Regions from separate parts of the Homo sapiens genome. Here all the other regions are linked to region 2. The links come from fine-mapping of genetic effects on plasma protein levels. Region 2 holds a variant in brackets. A gene starts in each other region. All regions are shown on their reverse strands.

What was found. A credible set is the group of variants that fine-mapping cannot tell apart. PIP is the posterior inclusion probability: the model's chance that the variant is causal. Protein levels are from antibody-based Olink assays in UK Biobank. Linkage for the fine-mapping came from a reference panel and not from the study's own genotypes, which makes the PIPs less certain.
Region 1: ADH4 starts here. The variant in region 2 is the best candidate, but not a certain one, in a credible set for the plasma level of the ADH4 protein (UK Biobank, PIP 0.72).
Region 3: it holds the start of PTGR1, and the variant in region 2 is the best candidate, but not a certain one, in a credible set for the plasma level of the PTGR1 protein (UK Biobank, PIP 0.90).
Region 4: it holds the start of APOF, and the variant in region 2 is the best candidate, but not a certain one, in a credible set for the plasma level of the APOF protein (UK Biobank, PIP 0.86).

The regions. Positions count from the first base shown.
Region 1 is chr4:99,141,475-99,146,618 of GRCh38, reverse strand. ADH4 (alcohol dehydrogenase 4 (class II), pi polypeptide) reads left to right here and starts at 2,322. Exons shown (of 9, transcript NM_000670.5): 1 at 2,322-2,414; 2 at 3,839-3,940; 3 at 4,937-5,078. The coding sequence starts at 2,397. All of the region lies in intron 2 of LOC100507053 (a long non-coding RNA gene), which reads right to left. RefSeq lists a promoter at 2,028-2,350.
Region 2 is chr8:125,491,328-125,496,478 of GRCh38, reverse strand. The region is part of intron 2 of TRIB1AL (TRIB1 associated lncRNA); the gene reads right to left. Among named protein-coding and RNA genes, the nearest start is that of LINC02964, 26 kb to the left of the region's middle. The variant C/T (reference allele first, on the strand shown) is at 2,027.
Region 3 is chr9:111,596,626-111,601,773 of GRCh38, reverse strand. It overlaps PTGR1 (prostaglandin reductase 1), which reads left to right and starts at 2,127. Exons shown (of 10, transcript NM_001146108.2): 1 at 2,127-2,171; 2 at 4,342-4,457. The coding sequence starts at 4,352. RefSeq lists an enhancer at 1,704-2,276.
Region 4 is chr12:56,360,502-56,365,650 of GRCh38, reverse strand. APOF (apolipoprotein F) reads left to right here and starts at 2,794. Exons shown (of 2, transcript NM_001638.4): 1 at 2,794-2,921; 2 at 3,462-5,083. The coding sequence starts at 2,906. The coding sequence ends at 4,426. RefSeq lists an enhancer at 5,062-5,149.

The sequences.
Region 1 (5,144 bases), not on the chromosome of region 2:
CATTCAGAAAAGAGTGTTAATTCCAATTGTGTTTCCAAGGTCATTATTCAATTTGACCAGCATTTAGTAATCACCTAGTATTTTTTCGGGGCTCTGAAGTATACTCTTCAGGATATGAAATGTAAATAAAATACAATCTCTACAGTTAAGGAGGCTACAGGTAGGAAACAGGTTGTCAAAAAAGGCACAAGTAACAGAACATGAGACAAAATGAAGCAAAACTTACTTTGCTTCATTTGCCTATTTATGTATAAGCCTGAAGAGTCATGCAAACACGAGTGCTACAGAGATTCAAAAAGGGAAAAGACCATATCCAAATAGAAAGAGTGGGGATGCAAGATAGGAACCTGGAGACACACCTTAAGGAAATATAAGGGGTTAGTTGGCCACAGTAGATGTTCCAATCAGAGCAAACTAAAAAAAACTCATGCATTGCATTGGGGAAAACAGTTTCAATAGAACAAGGAGATGGAAATCAAACAAGTTGAGTGAAATGTGGTTAGTGAAAAAGTGGAAACGAGTATAAATTACGCTTTCTAAAAGTTTAATAGAACAACTGAAATATTTAAGAGATGGTGGAATACTAGGGGACTATTAAAAGAAATAATGTAGATAATGAAAACACACTGCCAGGGAAAGATAGTAAAAATGTCATTAAATTTCTTAAAACACATGGAACACAGAATACTTGCATGCACGTAATATCAAGCTTCAAGATATGTAAAGTAAAAAAAAGTACTCTCAGAAATTAACAAACTCATAATAATGATGTATTTTTGTTTCTTTTTATTTTTAGTTATTATTTAAAATAATTTTATTGTTATTTATTCATTTTTATTTTTAATTTTAATATGTACAGAAAGAATTGTACATATTTGTGAAGTACCTATGATACTTCAGTACACACATACAACGTGTAATGATAATTAGAGTAATCATAATGATTTCTAAACATCTCTCAGTAGTTAATAGAATAAGCACAACAAAATCAGTATGAGCTGACTCCAGTACAGGACTGGTGCTTATCCTTATTAATAATCAGATCAATACAAATTAAAAACAGAATTAGATATCTTTACACACGACCAGATTAAGAAGATTTTTAAAGTCTGCCAATTCCAAGCATGGGTGAGGATGTGGAGCAACGAGGACTCTCATACACTGCTGCTGGTAGGTGAAGCCATTCTGTGAAATTCCTTGGCCTTGCCTATTAAAGTTGAAGACTTTAATTCCACTCCTAGTCAAAAAATATTTAACAACCAGTACAGAAAGGAAACTCCATTTCTCACAAATGGCCATATACATGTGACTCCAGGGGAGTTCTGACCCACAGCACTGGAGGCCACAGCCACAGGAGGTCAGATGGACACTAGGTATTTATCTACTGGGGTTCCAGGGACTACTCTGTTTTAGGGGGACAGCCAGAGACCCAGAACCATCAGGGCTGGTTGATGGACTCACACATCAGGTGGGACAAAAAGAGTAGCTCCTTAGCAGTGACTAAATAGGGGCCCCCAGGGCTGCAACAGAGTTGAAGGGGAACTTGGGGATTTGGGATAGTGACTTTTTACCAAGCTGAATAAAAATACTTCAATATTTTGATAATTGGCATGGCCTTCATAGTGGGTACTGGCTGAATATCAGCTCTGAATTTTCTTTAAGGCAACTCAAGCATATGTGCAACCAAGTACATGAAAAGAATTTGTATGTAACCACTAATTCATCATAAGCAAAGAGGAAAAAAAACAGCAAAAAGGAAAATGGATGAATAAATTATGTTCAATTCATACACTGGAATATTCTAGAGTAATGAAAATAAGCTACAGCCACAGGCAATGTGAATGATTCTCACATAGAGTAGAGGGGAGAAAAAAGACATGAAACAATACATACACTATGATTCCATTCATAAAAAGGCTTTGCTAGATTAAACTATTGGATAGAGAAGCTTAAATAGGTAGTAAACCACTAAATATGCAAGGAAGTGATTATCAGGGTTGTGAAGGAGAAGAACAGGTAAGTTAAATGGGCGATTCTGAGGAGTAGAAATTTCCTTTACTTCATAATTATTTGTTAATTCATCTTTATATGTTTAATGGGCTTTTCTCTATTATTTTATATTTTTCAATAAAAGAAAAAAGAATTTAAAAAATCTTGGAGCTCACTGGGAGCAATGAGGTTTGCAGCTGAAGTCCAATAGTACAAATGATGTGGTAAGAGGCCGGCAGGGCTGTGAATTACAGCAACAAAGGAGAAAAGGAAGTGATTGGAGAATTAAGCAACATGAATGGTATTTATTCAAAGACAGCTCATTATAGGACACGGAACTCCCTGGGTAGGAGTTTGAAGCTTTCTTAACTCAGAAAGAAACTTCCAACACAGTTTCCCAAAGAAAAATGGGCACCAAGGGCAAAGTAAGCAAGTAAGCTGTATCTTTGTTCAGTTTGTGCTTTTCTGTGTCCTTGTATGTTTGGCTAAAAGGAGCTTCCTTCAGGAACTCAGGAAGCAGTGACTTACAGTTGATCAAAAGGATATGAGTGACCCCTATGCCAGGAATTTATTCTAGGGAAATTAACTGTGGATTGCCAAAATGTTTATTAGAAGGGTGTTCAGTTAATATTAATATTATTTAAATGGCCAAAAGAAGAGAGATTTAAGTAACTGTGCTGTAACCATAAAATATAATATGCATATGTTACAAATAATGTTGCAGGAGAATATGGGAAAATGTTCACAGTATATTAATAGTAGAAAAAGTATATTACAAAATACTATGGACAATGTATCTTATTTGGGGATACTCGAAGAATCTGCATCAAAAGCATAAAGTGGGTGATGAGCTTACAGATGAATCTTATTCTATTTTTTGTCTTTAAAAACTTGATAGGCCTTGGCATTTTGAAACTTCCTGTTAATTAATATATACTTCATTTGAAACAAAATAAATAATATTCAAAAACATAATTCAAAATTATGTAACTATTGAAAAATATACATTAATGTGGTCAAAGACTTTGGGAAAAGTATACCAAATGTAAGCATAGTAGTGTTAGAACAGAAGATTATAGGTTTGTTTCTTTCTACTTTCTTTCAATGTTGCTTATATTTGAAATTAAAAATATAATTTGAGGCTAGAAAAAATTGGGGTTATAGAATCCTAAATATTTAATTTCTGTTCATTCATCTTTACCCAAATTCTTACAATTAGATGAAATTTTTATTTAATTTATATCCTACAGATAAATTTAATAATGATGTAAGCCTCATTTCTCAGACTTTTAATGAATTCTCTGGGGATATTGTTCAAATGCAGATTTTGATTTAGTGGATTTGAGGCAGGGCTTTCATCTCTAACAAATTCCCAAGTGATGTGAATAAATGCTTGTCCGAGGACCACACTTCGAGTTGCAGAGATGTAAAACACATCTATTCTCCAGCAATTATCTGACTCAGGTAATTCAGAGGTGATTTCAAACAGTTCACTCAATAGATTTTTATAGGCCATCTACCTTATTCAAACTCCATAAATCTATTCTCTCTGTTATAGAGGGAAAAACTTGAGACATTATATCAAGGTAAACTTTAATACACCTGTTTTTTTTTCAAGAAATAAAAAATGTAATGACTATAATGTAGAATTTAACTTCTTATTTTTCTTTAAGATCCCTTGTCTTTAAAATAATATCTATAAGATCCAGCTACAAACTCTTTAACTCTTTGTCATGAAATTACAGTATCAATATATTCTAATTTTTTCTCATGATCTCCTCTCTCCTACCCCCAACCCTGTCAAAATCTCTATCTCTATCTCCCTCTTCCTTTTCTTTCTCTCTTTCAGGTTATTAAATGCAAAGCAGCCATCGCCTGGGAAGCAGGCAAGCCCCTTTGCATTGAAGAGGTTGAAGTAGCTCCCCCCAAGGCTCATGAAGTTCGCATTCAGGTAAGTGGAGACTTTCCTTGGGTGGGAACAGACAGGGCCCCAAGTGGAGACCTGGCTTCTGTCAGGTCAATCCTCTGTGCTATGATTCAGAGGCCTTGGAGTTTCTAGTACAGGGAAGCTGTATTTTTAGATTCAGTCAAAAACAGGCATTATCCCAAAAAGGAATAAATCATCCATTATTTTAGTAATTTTCAAATAATGGGCTTAAAATTTAATTGATCTTAACATTAATCATTTACCCTAAGAATCAGACAAAGGAATTCACTTTGGATTTGAATTAGTTAGGTTTTCTTTTTGCTTTCCAATTGCTAATTATTTGAAAGTGTTATTAAAAGGAAGATAGACAATTTGATCGAAAACAAGACAGAAGAAAAAACCTGACGTGCTGCCCTAGGCAGCCGAAGGGTCCTGGGTATCCAGAGGAAGGGACAGGAGTAGGTCACAGGGAGAAGAGAGTGCATGGAATGGAGTGAGATCACTGATGGCAAGTTTGGACAATTTCCCCATTTTTCCCAAGCTGACCAGGCTTATATTTTCCTTGAGGACCCCCACATTAAGAGTCTGTACATGAGAGTGAATGGGACATTCTCACTGACAGAACCTTAAAGAAGAATATAGGTATACATTGGTAATTAATTCAGACAATCCTTGATTTGATATTGTTCTCTCAACTGTAAAAGGTGTATTACCTCAACTTCATTTCAATAAGCCCTATTACCTTTGATTTTTTCCTCTCCTGGAGGCAATAATTGCCAATCCTATCTCTTTTATGATTTTCTGACAACAGCAAAAGGTAGAAAACAAAGATGCATTATAAGAGGAAAATAATCTAACCCAGTATATTTTTATTGGTTCTTTTTTCAAAAGGTGATTCTTTTATTGAGTTCTAGAAGTCTTATAAAGTTTTAAAATGATATCAAGCCTAATCTTATATGTAACATCCAGCCCAATAATATAGTTGCAGAAACACAATTAAAGTCTGTGATTGCCTTGTAGATCATTGCTACCTCTCTGTGCCATACTGATGCCACTGTTATCGATTCTAAATTTGAGGGCCTAGCTTTCCCAGTGATCGTTGGCCATGAGGCTGCAGGTATTGTGGAAAGTATTGGGCCAGGAGTGACCAACGTCAAACCAGGTATTTTATTTTATTCAGAAAAAATGGAAATGTCACAATATTTCAGAGATAATTATTGATAGAGTC
Region 2 (5,151 bases):
GGGTCTCAATGCCATGGTTGAGTTTCTGCCCCAGCTCTTCCCTGTCTACCTCCAAATTTCTTGTTTTGTGAGAAAAACAATCCCCTAATTATTTAAGCTTCTGGGGGCTGGGTTTTCTATTGCTTGCTGCTGAATGCACTTTTTTTTTTTTTCTTGAGACAGGGTCTCACTCTGTTACCCAGGTTGGAGTGCAGTGACATGATCACATCTCACCACAGCCTCTACCTCCCCAGGCTCAAGCAATCCTCCCACCTTAGCTGGAACCACAGGTGCATGCCACCACGCACAGCTATTTTTTTTTTTTTTTTTTTTTTTTTGTAGACATGGGGTTTTGCCATGTTGCTTAGGCTGGTCTCGAACTTCTGGACTCAAGCAATCTGCCTGCCTCGGCCTCCCAAAGTGCTGGAATTACAGGCTATGCCACCACACCTGGCCTGAATGCACTCTTAATACCCTATTCACATCCTAATCCTACACCCCAAACAAAACACACATACACCCCAAGTCCCACCTGAACACCACTGTGTAATACCATTGCCCCATGTAACACTCTCCCACTCCCTACACCCCCAAGAACAACCCACCCTAACGCCAGCATCCACTGTGTGCACCCACCCCTAATCCTAATGCTGGTTGAAGCATTTATTCTATTAGCCGCTGCCCTTTTACAAGTCCTCACCATTCAGGACCCAGTAGCCTCTTCCCTCGCCCTCTCCACTTCATAAACTGAGCTTCAGAAACCACTTTCACCATCATGCAATTACTTTGGGAAGAGAACTGACGTCTCCTGAAGGCCGGTGAGAGTCTAGTCACACTTCTCCTTTCTGAGTTAGGACAGATTTATCTACCTGAGATCACACAACTCTCTCATGATGCAAAGAAATTCTGCTCTATGGGGAAAACAAAGAAAACAAAACAACCACCCACCCCCTCCAAAAAAATTGCCTTTGCCTTCTCTTTAAAAACTTCATTTCAAAACACTGGACCATGTGGATCATTTGGCAAACATGGTGTTAGGCAATGCCTCCAGGGGCCAAGAAGAGACACTCAGGGAACATCCTCCATCCAGGGTGAGCTAATCAGGGTGACCAATGACTCTGAAGTGGCTGAGCCAGGCTCCCTCACTTAGATGGGTGCAAGGGAACTGGAGAAAGTGTCCAGACACTCAGACCCAGCACCCTTCTTTCTAAGGCCACAGTCCCTCATAATTAATTAACAGCCTGCCCTGAAGATAGCATGAGTTGCCGCTGCCCTTGGGGTGGAATGGGCGAAAGGCTCGGACCAGCCCCTCCCACCACTCTACAGCACAGTGTCTCACCACCAGTCACTCTGCCCTTTGCATCCAGATCCTGGCCTTCTATCTGTCCACATTACCTGTTACCCAGGGAGGAACCTACTCCACACACAGCTCTACCCTGCTGATGGAGAACTGGCCGCCGGGCACAGACCCAGACCAGGAAGCCTTGAAGAGAGGGGAGGAAGACCAGAGCAGACCAGGGCAGAGTTGCATGACCTTTGGCAAGGTACTCTGAAGTGATTATAAATCCCTTGATAGCTACTCAGGAGGCAAGATGAGACTGGGAGGGACCTGGAGGGTCTACAGTAATCAGGGAGGAGCTGTGCAGTGGGAGGGAAAGGAAAAAGCCCAGAAAATCTTCAGGAGCATCTCCTAAAGTTTGAAGTTCCTGGGGATTTGTGACATACAGAGACCAAAGAAAGATCTATGAGGTTGCACGTGGAAGGAAAAAAAAAAAAATCCTGGGAGAGCTCTGTAGTGTCAAGAGCAAAGAAATGAAGGGTTTGGGCCAGGTGTGGTGGCTCATGCCTGTAAGCCTAGCACTTCGGGAGGCTGAGGTGGGCGGATCACCTGAGATCAGCCTGGCCAACATGGTGAAACCCAGTCTCTACTAAAAACAAAAAATTAGCCGGGCATAGTGGCAGGCACGTGTAATCCCAGCTACTTGGGAGGCTGAGGCAGGAGAGTCGCTTGAACCCAGGAGGCAGAGGCCGCAGTGAGCCAAGATTG[C/T]GCCACTGCACTCCTGCCTGGGTGACATGGCGAGACTCCATCTCAAAAAAAAAAAAAAAAAAGAGAGAGAGAGAGAAATGCAGGATTTGCGAGATTGGCTGTGAGGAACAAAAACATCATTTGACAGTTGGAGAAATGGAGGCAGTATCAAAGTGGCTGAGGAGACAGTCACAGAGGTGGCTGGCCAGAGGCCATGAGGTCTCTTGAGCTGGGACAGTCAAACTTTGCTTAACAACAGCCCATGGTCAGAAACACTTTTTTTTTTTTTTTTCTTCTTTGAGACGGAGTCTCACTCTGTCGCCTGAGCTGGAGTACAATGGTGCTATCTCAGTTCACTGCAAGCTCTGCCTCCCAGGTCCACACCATTCTTCTGCCTCAGCCTCCCGAGTAGCTGGGACTACAGGCGCCCACCACCGTGCCCGGCTAATTTTTTGTATTTTTAGTAGAGACGGGTTTCACCGTGTTAGCCAGGATGGTCTCGATCTCCTGACCTCGTGACCCACCCACCTGGGCCTCTCAAAGTACTGGGATTGCAGGCGTGAGCCACCGTGCCCGGACCAGAAACACTTCTTCTGCAGTGACCCAATATCCACACATAGAGGGTGACTTGTGTGCACACACACACGTGCATATCTACATATAAAAGAAACAAATGGAGGAGATGGATTGGAGTTGGGGTTTGGGGTGTCTGTGGCAACTTCATCTGGCCCTTAAGGGGCAGGACGACTCCCCTCAACATCAGGGTTACACATGCAAGAACACAAAGAACATGCTCAGAACACTCCCCTGGGCGCTGTGTCTGTGTCTTTGTTCCTGTGGGTCATGCAACTGTATCTGGGAGCCTAGGAGTCCTCCTGTCCATGTCTGTGTATCTGTCTCTGTTTGCCCCTGTAGACCATAGGAAAAGAAACACAAACTTCTAGTGTGAAGACGTTTTCACAGTTCTTTCTCCATATGTCTGGGACCCTCTGTGTCATGGGGCTAAGCGGAGCCTGGGCAGAATTCTGGCTTTGCTCTGGAATCAGAAAACCTTAGAACTGAAAAAGACCTTGGAAACTCCTTGGCCCAAACACCCCCTTTTAGAAATGGAGAAAATATGATGCATATTATGGAAGAGCAGAGAAGCTTTGAGGAAGGACAAAAATATCTAGAATTGTGTAGGAATGCTTTTACACCGTTGGTGGGAGTGTAAACTAGTTCAGCCATTGTGGAAGACAGTGTGGTGATTCCTCAAGGATCTAGAACTAGAAATACCATTTGACCCAGCGATCCCATTACTGGGTATATACCCAAAGGATTATAAATCATGCTACTATAAAGACACATGCACATGTATGTTTATTGAGGCACTATTCACAATAGCAAAGACTTGGAACCAACCCAAATGTCCATCAATGATAGACTGGATTAAGAAAATGTGGCACATATACACCATGGAATACTATGCAGCCATAAAAAAGGATGAGTTCATGTCCTTTGTAGGGACATGGATGAAGCTGGAAACCATCATTCTGAGCAAACTATCACAAGGACAGAAAACCAAACACCACATGTTCTCACTCATAGGTGGGAACTGAACAATGAGAACACTTGGACACAGGGTGGGGAACATTACACACCAGGGCATGTCGTGGGGTGGGGGGAGGGGGGAGGGATAGCATTAGGAGATATACCTAATGTAAATGATGAGTTAATGGGTGCAGCACACCAACATGGCACATGTATACATAAGTAACAAACCTGCACCTTGTGCACATGTACCCTAGAACTTAAAAGTATAATAATAAAAAAAAAATCTAGAATTGTGTCTTCCAACACAGCAGCCACTAGCCACCTATGGCTGCTGAGCACTTAAAATTGACTAGTCCAGATTGAGATGTACTATAAGTACAAAATATACCCCAGACTTCAAAGACTTTATATGAAAAAGTACGTAAAATTGTTCAATAATTTTTACATTGATTGCATATTGAAATGATAACAATTTTGATCTATTAGGTTAAAATATATTATTGAAATTAATTTTACTTTTTAATTATGACTACCAGAAAATGTCAAATTATGTATGCCGCTCTCATTTCTGGCCCACTTTATATTTCTATGGGACACACTGACCAAGAGTCTTGCGTCAGACATTTAACGTCTCTGAGTCTCGATTTCACCAGGTATAAAATGGGTGTCGTGATGCTTATCTCTTGGAGTTGTTGTGAGGATTAATTGAGAAACCATGTGAAAGAGCTTTTAAATCTTAAGAAGCTGTTCAGATAAAGAGGTGGATATGGTGGTGGTGATGATGGTGATGGTGATGGTGGTGGTGGTGGTGGTGGTGGTGACGGTGGTTGTAACTCAGATCTTCGCCAAGAGGGAAGGGGTGAAAGGATAAAGGATTTAATAGTTTGACCTTCAGGAAAATACCCATAGGGGTCAGCCATATGCATGTGATCACCCACCCACCATAATTTTGGTGCTGGAGAAACAATGACCACTCCCAAACTCAGAACCATTACCCAGACCAAGCCTTTCAAAACCCCGAGTCACCATGTTCTTGCTCAGCAACCATACCACACCATCCTCCGCCTCTGCAGGTCCCTAGCCACCCCTCCAGCCTCCTCTGACACAGGAGGCTGTCTCCTCTCAGGGTAGCATGAAGCCCTTCTCCCCAGGGCACCCTTCCTTAGGAGGACAACTCCACATCTGAGTGGGATTTCCCAACAATGCTTTTTCTCTGCTCTTTGCCAGAGGCCCAGGGTCCCAGAGGGCTCCAGAAAGAGGGAGATAGCCCCAAATCTGGCCTGAGGGGACCAGCCCCTTCCTGGGACCATCACCCAGGGCAATCCCTGTTGCAACGGTGGTCTCGTAACAATCGCTTACAAACCCGGTTAGGCAAGCTGCTTTTGCGTGATGGGGCTATCTTGAGTAAACAGCATCCTCTGTCCCCTGCCGGTCACTTGCTCAAGACATTGCTGGACATTGCATTACAGCCACTGACACACGGAGTTTTGAAAATGAAAACAGGCCCTCTGGCTTATGATCAGATAGCATTTAACTCATTTATGATTGCGCCATGTTTTCCCAAGACCCAAGGGCCACAGAACGGATATTGTCACAAATGCAAACAGAAGATG
Region 3 (5,148 bases), not on the chromosome of region 2:
CTGTATCTTCAATTTAAGGACAAGTGAGTAAATATGTGAGCCACTCTGTGTTTCTGGCACTTTTTTCTCTTATTCTTACTTTGCAAAGACTTTTTATGCCTGCAATTTTATTAACACTTCTAATATCCAAAAGAAACAGTGATTCTGTAACAAGTTATCTTAAAAGAAAAAAAAAAGAGAGAAGCAGAATGCGATATGTAACCCAATACCGTTTCTATAAATTAAATGTATATGACCACAGTGCACATTATGTAAGAACATGGAAAAAAAAACTGTATGCAAATCAAATACATCACAGTAGTTACCTATAGTAGGAGGAGAAAAGCAGGAAATTGAGTTTTTTTGGTTTTCTTTTGAGACGGGATCTCACTTAGACACCCAGTCTAGAGTGCAGTGCCACGATCGCAGCTCGCTGCAGCCTCCACCTCCCAGGTTAAAGCTATGTTGCCCACGCAAGTCTTGAATGCTTGGCCTCAAGTGGTCCTTTTGTCTCAGACTCCAAAAGTGCTAGGATTACAGGCATGAGCCACAGCACCCAGCCTGGGAATGGAGTTTTGTTTTATATTAAGTTACATAAATTAATGAGAAGGGAGAGAGTGAGAAAGAAAGAATTTGGCAGACCAGTGGGGATAAAGTGCCACCAACTCTGATTAGTGTGAAGAATTCAACTCTCGGCATTGTGTTTTTAGGGTCCATCCAAGTTGCTTTATGTACATGGAACCCAGTGCTTCTGATGCTGTGTATATCCTGTGGCATGCGTCCACCACGCTTGGTCCACACACTCTGTTATGGGCTGAACTGTGTCTTCCCCAATTTCATGTGTTAAAATCCCCAAGTCCCAGTACTCAGAATGTAACTGTATTTGTAGATAGGGCCTTTAAAGAGGTAATTAAGGTTACATGAGGCCATATTAGTGAGCCCTAATCCATTTGACAGTATTTGAAGACAAGGCCTTCAAAGACGTGTTTAAGTTAAACGGAGGCTGACAAGTGGGGCTCTAATCCAATATGGCGGGTATCCTTACAAGGAGAGACATTGAGCCAGGTGTGGTGGTGGGCCTGTAATCCCAGCTTCTAGGGAGGCTGAAGGAGGATCACCTGAGTCCAGGAGTTCAAGGCTGCAATGAGCTATGATGCCCACCATTGCACTCCAGCCTGGGTGACAGAGCAAGACCTCAAAATAATTAAAATTAAATAAATAAATTAAAGACATTGAATCTTCACAATGACTGGAAGTTAGGCATTCTTCTTATCCCCATCTTGCAGATGGCTGAACTGAGTGAGGCAAGGAGAAGGTAAGTAAGTCTTTGAAAGCTACACCACTAGTAAGTGGCAGGTGCAGGCTTCGAACCTGCAGTCGTCTAATACCAACGACTTAGCTTCACGTTCAACCCCTGCCTGAGACCACCTCTCCTTGCAGAAGCCAGGTCAAGGCCTGATGTTTGCTAGGGTGTGATGGGTGGGGTGCCTCAGTGGCAAGAGTGCTCACTCCTGCCTGGGGGAGTCTGGCAAGGGTTCACAGAGGTGACCTTGAATTGGCTGGTGGAAGGCGAGTAGGTGTTCAGCAGGCGGACTGGGGACAGACAGGCAGGGTGTCTGCACCGCAGCCCTGGGCGAAAGCTTGCACTGCGGGCAAGCGGCAGGGCTGACGGGGAGCCCAGGGATCGGAGCCAGCACCGGGGGCTTATTAGGGCTGCGGCCGCCCCAGGCCCTGCCTTTGGACCCTTCCGGCCTGCTTGGCAGATGCCACGGTTGGTTCCCCCACGGGGCATATTTCCGCCGGGCTCCAACTTAGGACCCCAGGCGGAGGTCCAGTGTCAGCTGGACAAAGCTCTGTTAGGAATTTTCCTATCAGGAGTCCCTAACCCCCTACACGCACACACACGGGCGCGCGGGCGCGCACGCACACACACGCACACATGCACACATACGCGCGCGCACATGCACATAGGCACACAGAGATACGCGCACACACACACACAAACGCACTCAGATTTCCCGGACCCTGGTTTTCCTCCTGTGACCCTTTCGGGGCCGGGCTCTCACCCTAAAGAAGCAGCCCCGCCCTGGGGTGGCCCCACCCTCTCTTGGGACCTGTCATAAGTCGGACCCCGGGCGCCCGGCTGCGCAGTCCCAGCCGCCTTCCCCAGGCAGTGGAACCTTCGGGCTCCTGTAAGTAGACCTCCTGCTTTCTTTCCTTCCCTTTTCTCCCTCCTCTAACCCCCTTGCTTTCTTCCTGCCAAGTTTCTAGACGCCCCAGTGGAGGAGGTTTGCTCTTAGACCTCCTCCCCTTACGTCGAAATGACCGCTGGGTCTTGCACTCGGAGGATCTTGGGAGCCGACGTCCCGACGCCTCCCGCCCCCGCAGTTCCTTGGAGAGCTTGGAGCCGCGCGCCGGAGGGAATAGGAAAGCTTGGTTACAACCCGGGACACCCGGTAGCTTCCTGCACCCGGGAGGGGGCTGGCCAGGGAACTTGCTGGACTGCACAACTGGGGGAGGGTAGAAGAAGAAAGATCGGGGTGGGGATTCGGGAATGGGCAAGCGGGCGGCGGGCGGCGGGAGGCGAGGGTGGGAGCAAAGGGCGAGCGGGCAAAGGCCGGGCGCCGCGCCAGGCCCCCTCCTCGGGCGGGCGAGACTTTCCCGGGACCTGGCCCCTCTGCGGCCAGACCCTTTCCAGGAGGGCTTCTGGACTTGTAGCGAGTTTGGAAGCCCAGCGGTTGCTTTTTTGGGGAAAGGGACAAAGATGTGTGAACTCTAAAGAAGTTGAACTCATAGAAATAACGACTAGAATGATGGTTGCCAGAGGCTGGGAGCGGGTTCGGGGGGGAATGGGGGCTTGTTGGCCAAAGGGTACGAAGTTCAGAGACGAGAGGAGTAGGTTCTGAGATCTGTTGCACAGCAGAGTGACTAGAGCCAATAATGTGTATTTCGAAATAACAGAGTAAACTGCAAATGTCTCACCGTAAAAATGATACGTAGGGCCTGGCGCGGTGGCTCACGCCTGTAATCCCAGCACTATGGAAGGTCGAGGCGGGCGAATCATTTGAGCTCAGGAGTTCTAGACCAGTCTGGCCAACATGGGGAAACCCCGTCTCTACTAAAAGTACAAAAATTAGCTGGGCGTGGTGGCGGGCGCCTGTAATCCCAGCTACTCAGGAGGCTGAGACAGGAGAACCGCTTGAACCCGGGAGACGGAGGTTGCAGTGAGCTGAGATCGCGCCATTGCACTTCAGCCTGGGCGACAGAGCGAGACTCCGTCACAAAAAAAGTCTTAATTTTAAAAAAAGAAAAGAAGGAACAACCCCGGGCTGCAGATCAGACCGCCCCCCTGGCTCCCTCGCAATGCGGGAGTGCTCCCTCCAGGTCACCGTGTCCCCTCCCGCGGCACCGGTAGGGGAGCTGGGGAGATCACTGGCAGCTCCAAATGGTTTCGTAACTGGATTGTTTGTAGCGGATGCACCCGCGGGAAGGCGCAGGTCCCAAGTGATTCGGCAGAGTTCAGTCCAAGCAGAACATCCTGAACCCCCAGCTCGGGGCAGCCTTCATCATCTTCCCTTGCTTTGGTGCAGCGTTTCAGCTCAAAATCGGTTTGGTGTGGAGTTTAAACTCAAATCCCTACTGGGCCAAAGAAAATTCGCACCCGATGGCTGAGTGCAAGTGGTTCACACCTGTAATCCCAGCACTTTGGGAGACCGAGGCGGGCGGATCGCCTAGGCAACACAGTGAGGCTCCTCTCTACAAGAAAAGAGAGAAAAAAAAGTATTTAAAAAAAAAAAAAACGCACCTGAAAATGGGGCGGAGCAGCGGCGCCCTCCGGTGGTTTTCAGGAGTTCTGAGACTGCCTTGAAATGCGTGGCTGTTTCCATCTGAAAGAGGTGCATGGACTTCTATCTATTGGGTTCTTTGTGTTTGATGCTTTTTCTTAGAATTCACTCCATGTGAGATGAGAAACGGAATGGAATATTCGCACTTCCGGTAACTGTTCAGTGCCGTAGAGAAACTCTAGCCTAGCAGTGGCTGGGAAGAATTTCTTTGTTGTTTTATATTTTTTCCTTGTCTTGAAGATTTCTTTAAACCTCAGTTTCCTCATCCGTACACTGGCAATGATACTAATGTCTATCTTATAGGGAAGTTATAAGGATAAAATGAGGTAATCTATATGAAGTGCTTAGCACAGCACCAGAAACATAGTAAATGTTAAATGAATGTGGTTGGCATGATATGATAATGATGGGATTTGAGGATATTGTAATTGTGCTGTCTGGTCTCAGTTTGACGGCTAGAGAACTGTTAGAATGCAGTCACTTCATGGCAGTTGACTACATATTTACTGTGTTCTAGGAGCTTCAGGATGGTTCGTACTAAGACATGGACCCTGAAGAAGCACTTTGTTGGCTATCCTACTAATAGTGACTTTGAGTTGAAGACAGCTGAGCTCCCACCCTTAAAAAATGGAGGTAAGTCATACTAAAAATATTTCAGAGTTGGAAGGGACTGTATCAGTTAGCTTTTGCTGCATAACAAACTACCCCAAAGTTTAGTGACTTTAAGCAACAACGGTTTATTAGTTCACAATTCTTTGGGTTGGCAATTTGGGCTGAGTTAAGCTGGGTGGTTCTTCTTAGGTCTCATCTGGGGTAAATGGTTAATTTAGGATGGGCCTTGCTCACATGTCTGCTGATTAGCAGGCTTTCTGTTGGGGTGCATGCCTTAGTTCTCATCTATGTGGCCTTTCTAGCAGGCTAGCTTGAGCTCTATTCTTATAGTGGCCCCATAGATCTAGAGCAGCAGTAGTTGGCAAGCTCCAATGTGCAAGCACTTTCTCTTTTTTTTTTTTTTTTTTTTTTGAGACAGAGTCTTGCTCTGTTGCCCAGGTTGGAGTGCAGTGGCATGATTTTGGCTCACTGCAACCTCTGCCTTCTGGGTCCAAGCGATTCTCTTGCCTCAGCCTCCTGAGTAGCTGGGATTACAGGTGTGCGCCACCATGCCCCCCTAATTTTTGTATTTTTTCTGAGATGGAGTCTTGCTCTGTCACCCAGGCTGGATTGCAGTGGAGCAATCTCGGCTCACTGCAACCTTTGCCTCCCAGGTTCAAGCAATTCTCCCTGCCTCAGCCACCTGAGTAGCTGGGATTACAGGCGCCCACCA
Region 4 (5,149 bases), not on the chromosome of region 2:
TCTACCAAAAATACAAAATTAGCCGGGAATGGTGGCACACGCCTGTAATCCCAGCTACTTGGGAGGCTGAGGCAGGAGAATCACTTGAACCTGGGAGGCGGAGGTTGCAGTGAGCTGAGATCGCGCCATTGCACTCCAGCCTGGTCAACAAGAGCGAAACTCCGTCTCAGAAAAAAAAAGAAAAGAAAAATGGTTTAGGGGTCCCAGAGATCACCAGCTATTCTGCCTTACCCTTTCTCCCCTCAAGAAGATACGGAGGACCTTTTCCTCAGCTCAAATATAGGTTTAGGGTAAAACCTTAGGATAGAAAAGATATGTCACTGGGTGCCGTGGCTCACGCCTGTAATCCCAACACTTTGGGAGGCCGAGGCAGGCAGATCATTCGAGGTCAGGAGTTTGAGACCAGCCTGACTGACATGGTGAAACTCCATCTCTACTAAAAATACAAAAACATTAGCTAGGCGTGGTGGCGCACACCTGTAGTCCCAGCTACTCGGGAGGCTGAGGCAAGAGAATCTCTTGAACCTGGGAAGTGGAGGTTGCAGTGAGCCAAGATCACGCCATTGCATTCCAGCCTGAGCAACAGAGTGAGACTGTCTCCAGAAAACAAAACAAAACAAAAATTTGCCAGGCATGGTGGTGCGTGCCTGTAATCCCAACTACTAGGGAGACTGAGACACAAGAATCGCTTGAACCCGGGATGTGGAGGTTGCAGTGAGCTGTGATCGTGCCACTGCACTCTACCCTGGGCAACAGAGTGAGACTGTGTCTCCAGAAAAAAAAAGGAAAAGAAAAAGAAAAAGAAAAAAAAAAAAAGATATGGGACAGGACTGCAGGGCCTAAAAGGGGAAAGGTCAGTTTGTCAGTATGGGTCAAAGGTGAGAAGGACAAAGTCTGGGCTGGGAAGAGATGCATAAATATTTGCAAATGTTTTGTCCTTCACTGTTTTGGAAGCCATCAACTTTCTGGTTTCCTTGTGATTCTGGGAAAGGGCAGATTAAAAACAGCAACAACAACAATAATAGTAATTCAGGTCATGAAGATACCAAAGCAAATGAGATGTTTGGACTGTTTTTTTCCTCTGACTTGTTTCTCCTCAAAATAGGAGGATCACCCACATCCTTTAAGAGTGAAGATGAGGTGTGCTCAGGGCAACCGAAGTTTCCAAGAGCTAAGACACTTTCTAGCTCTGGCCAGTCTTGGTGTCTCTTTGTCCTGAGCCTTTCTCCACTTCCCAACCTGAGCACTGCTTCCTTCCAGCAGGGCTGCTCTGCTGTCCCCCCATGGTCCAAGCTGTGCTGCTGCTTTGCTGTGTCCTGCTGTCCCTGGTGTCTGCCTTTCCAAGAAATGCTCAGAATGAGACTCTGACCCTCCAGCCATCTTTAACAGAGACTGGGCATCCATCAAACATGCTCTCCATTATTTGGAGAACATGGAGAGCCAGATTCCTCTCCCAGATCCCAGGATCTGCCAAGATCTCTTACACACAGCCCCCTCCCTAGCCCCTCTGCCTGAGTACCTGTCCAACTTAGCTCTGAGGGTGCCCTTGGAGGAGGTGGGCTGCCCAACTGAGGCCCATGTTCTGCAGTTTCAGATGCGAGGAAAGGATACCACTGAAACCCTCATCCGTGAGAGTCAAAAAGTTCAATGGGGAGGAAGGCAATACCAACATCATTGTGACGAATCTAGTAGTCCCTTAGGGAAGTGTGAATAAACCCAGCACCCAGCTGCCCATCCTGGGAAATGTATGGATGGTGGCAAATATACCCACTGGGGTAGCTGGCCTACCAGGTAGCTCAGATGGTGATTGAGTTTGCTGAGAAACCATCTCCCATGATGCTTGGTGTCACAGTTCAAAGTTTTGGGTGTCCACATCACCAAGAACTGCAGGTATGAGTCTTGGGAGCATATTGAAGAATTAGGCAAAAAGTTGAAGAAGCTCTCAAGATCATTTAAATTGTCCATGGACAGTGACAATATAATCTATCAAATGTTCCACAGCTATTCTGAAGTGCTTTGTGAGGAAAATGATCCAGGAATTGATCCCGGCTCATTTCAGCTATTCAATATCACATAAGTAATGAGTCTCCTTTCCCAGGACTGTATTCAAGGATGGCACACAGTAAGTAGTTAGAAATGTTGGAGACCACTTAGGACAGATGAATGCTCTTTATTTCACCTCTTCCCTTAAACACATATGTGACCAGTGTTAGCCTTGCCCCTCTCCACTTAGTAGGTGTCAGCTCCCCTCCTTTTTTTTTTTTAAGACGGAGTCTCACTCTGTCACCCAGGCTGGAGTGCAGTAGTGCGATCTTGGCTTACTGCAACCTCCACCTCCCGGGTTCAAGCAATTCTCCTGCCTCAGCCTCCTGAGTAGCTGGGACTACAGACGCCCACCACCACGCCTGGGTGTATATATATATATATATATATATATATTTTTTTTTTTTTAGTAGAGACAGGGTTTCACCATATTGGCCAGGCTGGTCTCGAACTCCTGACCTTGTGATCCGCCCGCCTTGGCCTCCCAAAGTGCTGGGATTACAGGCGTGAGCCACCATGCTCAGCCGCTAATTTAATTTTTAAAATGAAGAGAAATGAGAGTATCACAAACATCTCATCTTTCCTAATTCTGAATTTCCCTGGCTCCTATCATGAGCTTAGAGTGGGAATGTGGCAGGGACATACAGGAAATGCCAAAGAACAGGACTGTAGGCATAGAGGTTGAGTGTGTGACAAGGGGCACAAGGTTTGAGCAGCCAGTATAAATGGGCAAATATTTGCAGAGATTACATCCTTCACTGATCATAGGGGAAAGCAAATATCTCCTTTCCTCATGGGACACAGAACTAGGCAGAACAGGATCAGGAAGCGATCAAACCTACCAAGGCAGTCTCACTTCTCAATGACTGGACTGTGTGGTAATTTGGGGTCCCTATATATGGGTGGAAATAAAACAGAAGTCCCTGGTGACCTGTAAATGGGGGAGACCAAGTGGGAGCAACTGGGGTGCATTTCCTATTTCCTAGGCCTTTACCTAAAAAGAACAGAAGCTTGGGGCCAGGCGCGGTGGCTCACATCTGGAAGCCTATCACTTTGGGAGGCGGAGGTGGAAGGATCACTTGAGCCCAAAGTTCAGAACTAGGCTGGGCCAGATGGCAAAACCACGTCTCTACAAAAAATTTAAAAATTAGCTGGGCATGGTGTCACGCACCTGTAGTCCCAGCTGCTTGGGAGGCTGAGGCAGGAGGATCCCTCGAGCCCAGGAATTCAAGGCAGCAGTGATTTGTGATCCCATCACTGCACTCTAGTCTGGGCAACAGAGCAAGACCCTGTCTCTAAAAAGAAAGTACAAAAGCTTGGAAGCAGGTGATGTATGAGGTGTCCCCCTAACTGAGTCTTGGGCTCACCATCGCCCTTAGGGAAATGGTTTGTATGTTTCGGATTTCTCCCCTTTCTAGGGTACTCTGCTCCAGACATGCGTGGCCTCAGACTCATCATGATACCAGTTGAGCTGCTACTTTGCTACCTCCTGCTGCACCCTGTGGATGCCACTTCATATGGAAAGCAGACAAATGTCTTGATGCACTTTCCCTTGTCCTTGGAATCCCAGACACCCTCCTCAGACCCCTTGTCCTGCCAATTTCTGCACCCAAAGTCACTGCCTGGTTTCAGCCACATGGCCCCTCTACCCAAGTTCTTGGTAAGCCTGGCTCTAAGGAATGCCCTGGAGGAAGCTGGTTGTCAGGCTGATGTTTGGGCTCTACAGCTACAGCTCTACCGCCAGGGTGGTGTGAATGCTACACAGGTCCTCATCCAGCATCTTCGAGGGCTCCAGAAAGGCAGAAGCACAGAGAGGAACGTGTCAGTGGAAGCCCTGGCCTCTGCTCTGCAGCTGTTAGCCAGGGAGCAGCAAAGCACAGGAAGGGTCGGGCGCTCCCTCCCGACAGAGGACTGTGAGAATGAGAAGGAGCAAGCTGTGCACAATGTAGTCCAGCTGCTGCCAGGAGTGGGAACCTTCTACAACCTGGGCACAGCTTTGTATTATGCTACTCAAAACTGCCTGGGCAAGGCCAGGGAACGAGGCCGAGATGGGGCCATAGATCTGGGATATGACCTTCTGATGACCATGGCTGGGATGTCAGGGGGGCCTATGGGTCTAGCGATCAGTGCTGCACTTAAACCTGCATTAAGGTCTGGGGTTCAGCAGTTGATCCAGTATTACCAAGATCAGAAAGACGCAAACATCTCTCAGCCGGAGACCACCAAGGAGGGTTTGAGGGCCATCTCAGATGTGAGTGACTTGGAAGAAACAACTACTCTGGCTTCTTTCATATCAGAAGTAGTAAGTTCAGCTCCCTACTGGGGGTGGGCCATAATCAAGAGCTATGACTTAGATCCTGGGGCTGGGAGTCTTGAGATATAAAAGAATGTGGTAACCACAGAATTAATAACTGTACTACCCTGACAAGCTATATACATGTCTTCAAAATTTTAATCTGATTTATCCAGGAGGAAGGCTGTACAGTAAAACGTAAGAACGTAAATGTTTGGGTGTTGAAGTCACAGGGTTTGGTTTCGAATCTAGGCTCCACTTGTTAGAGCCTCGGTGATCACTGAATAGTAACTTCTTTCTTGAACTAAGATCAGTTTTGAAGTTTCTAAAGGAGATAGAATGATTTTAACCTCAATGAGTTGCCCTGTAAATTTAAAATGATACAATGAATCTAAAATGCTTATCACAGTACTTTCAATAAATAGCTATTAGCCAGGTGCGGTGGCTCACGCCTGTAATCCCAGCACTGTGAGAGGCTGAGGCGGGATGATCACCTGAGGTCAGGAGTTCAAGATCAGCCTGGGCAACATGGCGAAACCCCGTCTCTACAATAAATACAAAAAATTATCCTGGCGGAGTTATGCACGCTTGTAGTCCCAACTACCTGGGAGGCTGAGGCGGGAGAATCACCTGAGCCTGGGAGGTCGAGGCTGCAGCGAGCCGAGATCGCGCCGCTGCATTCCAGCCTGGGTGACAGAGCGAGACCATGTCTCAAAAAATAAAAATAAAAAAAAATTGTTTTCATTACCTCAGCCCTCCTCTTCCTATCCCAAGGCGTCGAAATTCCGGTCCCACCCCTTCCCATGGAGCCCT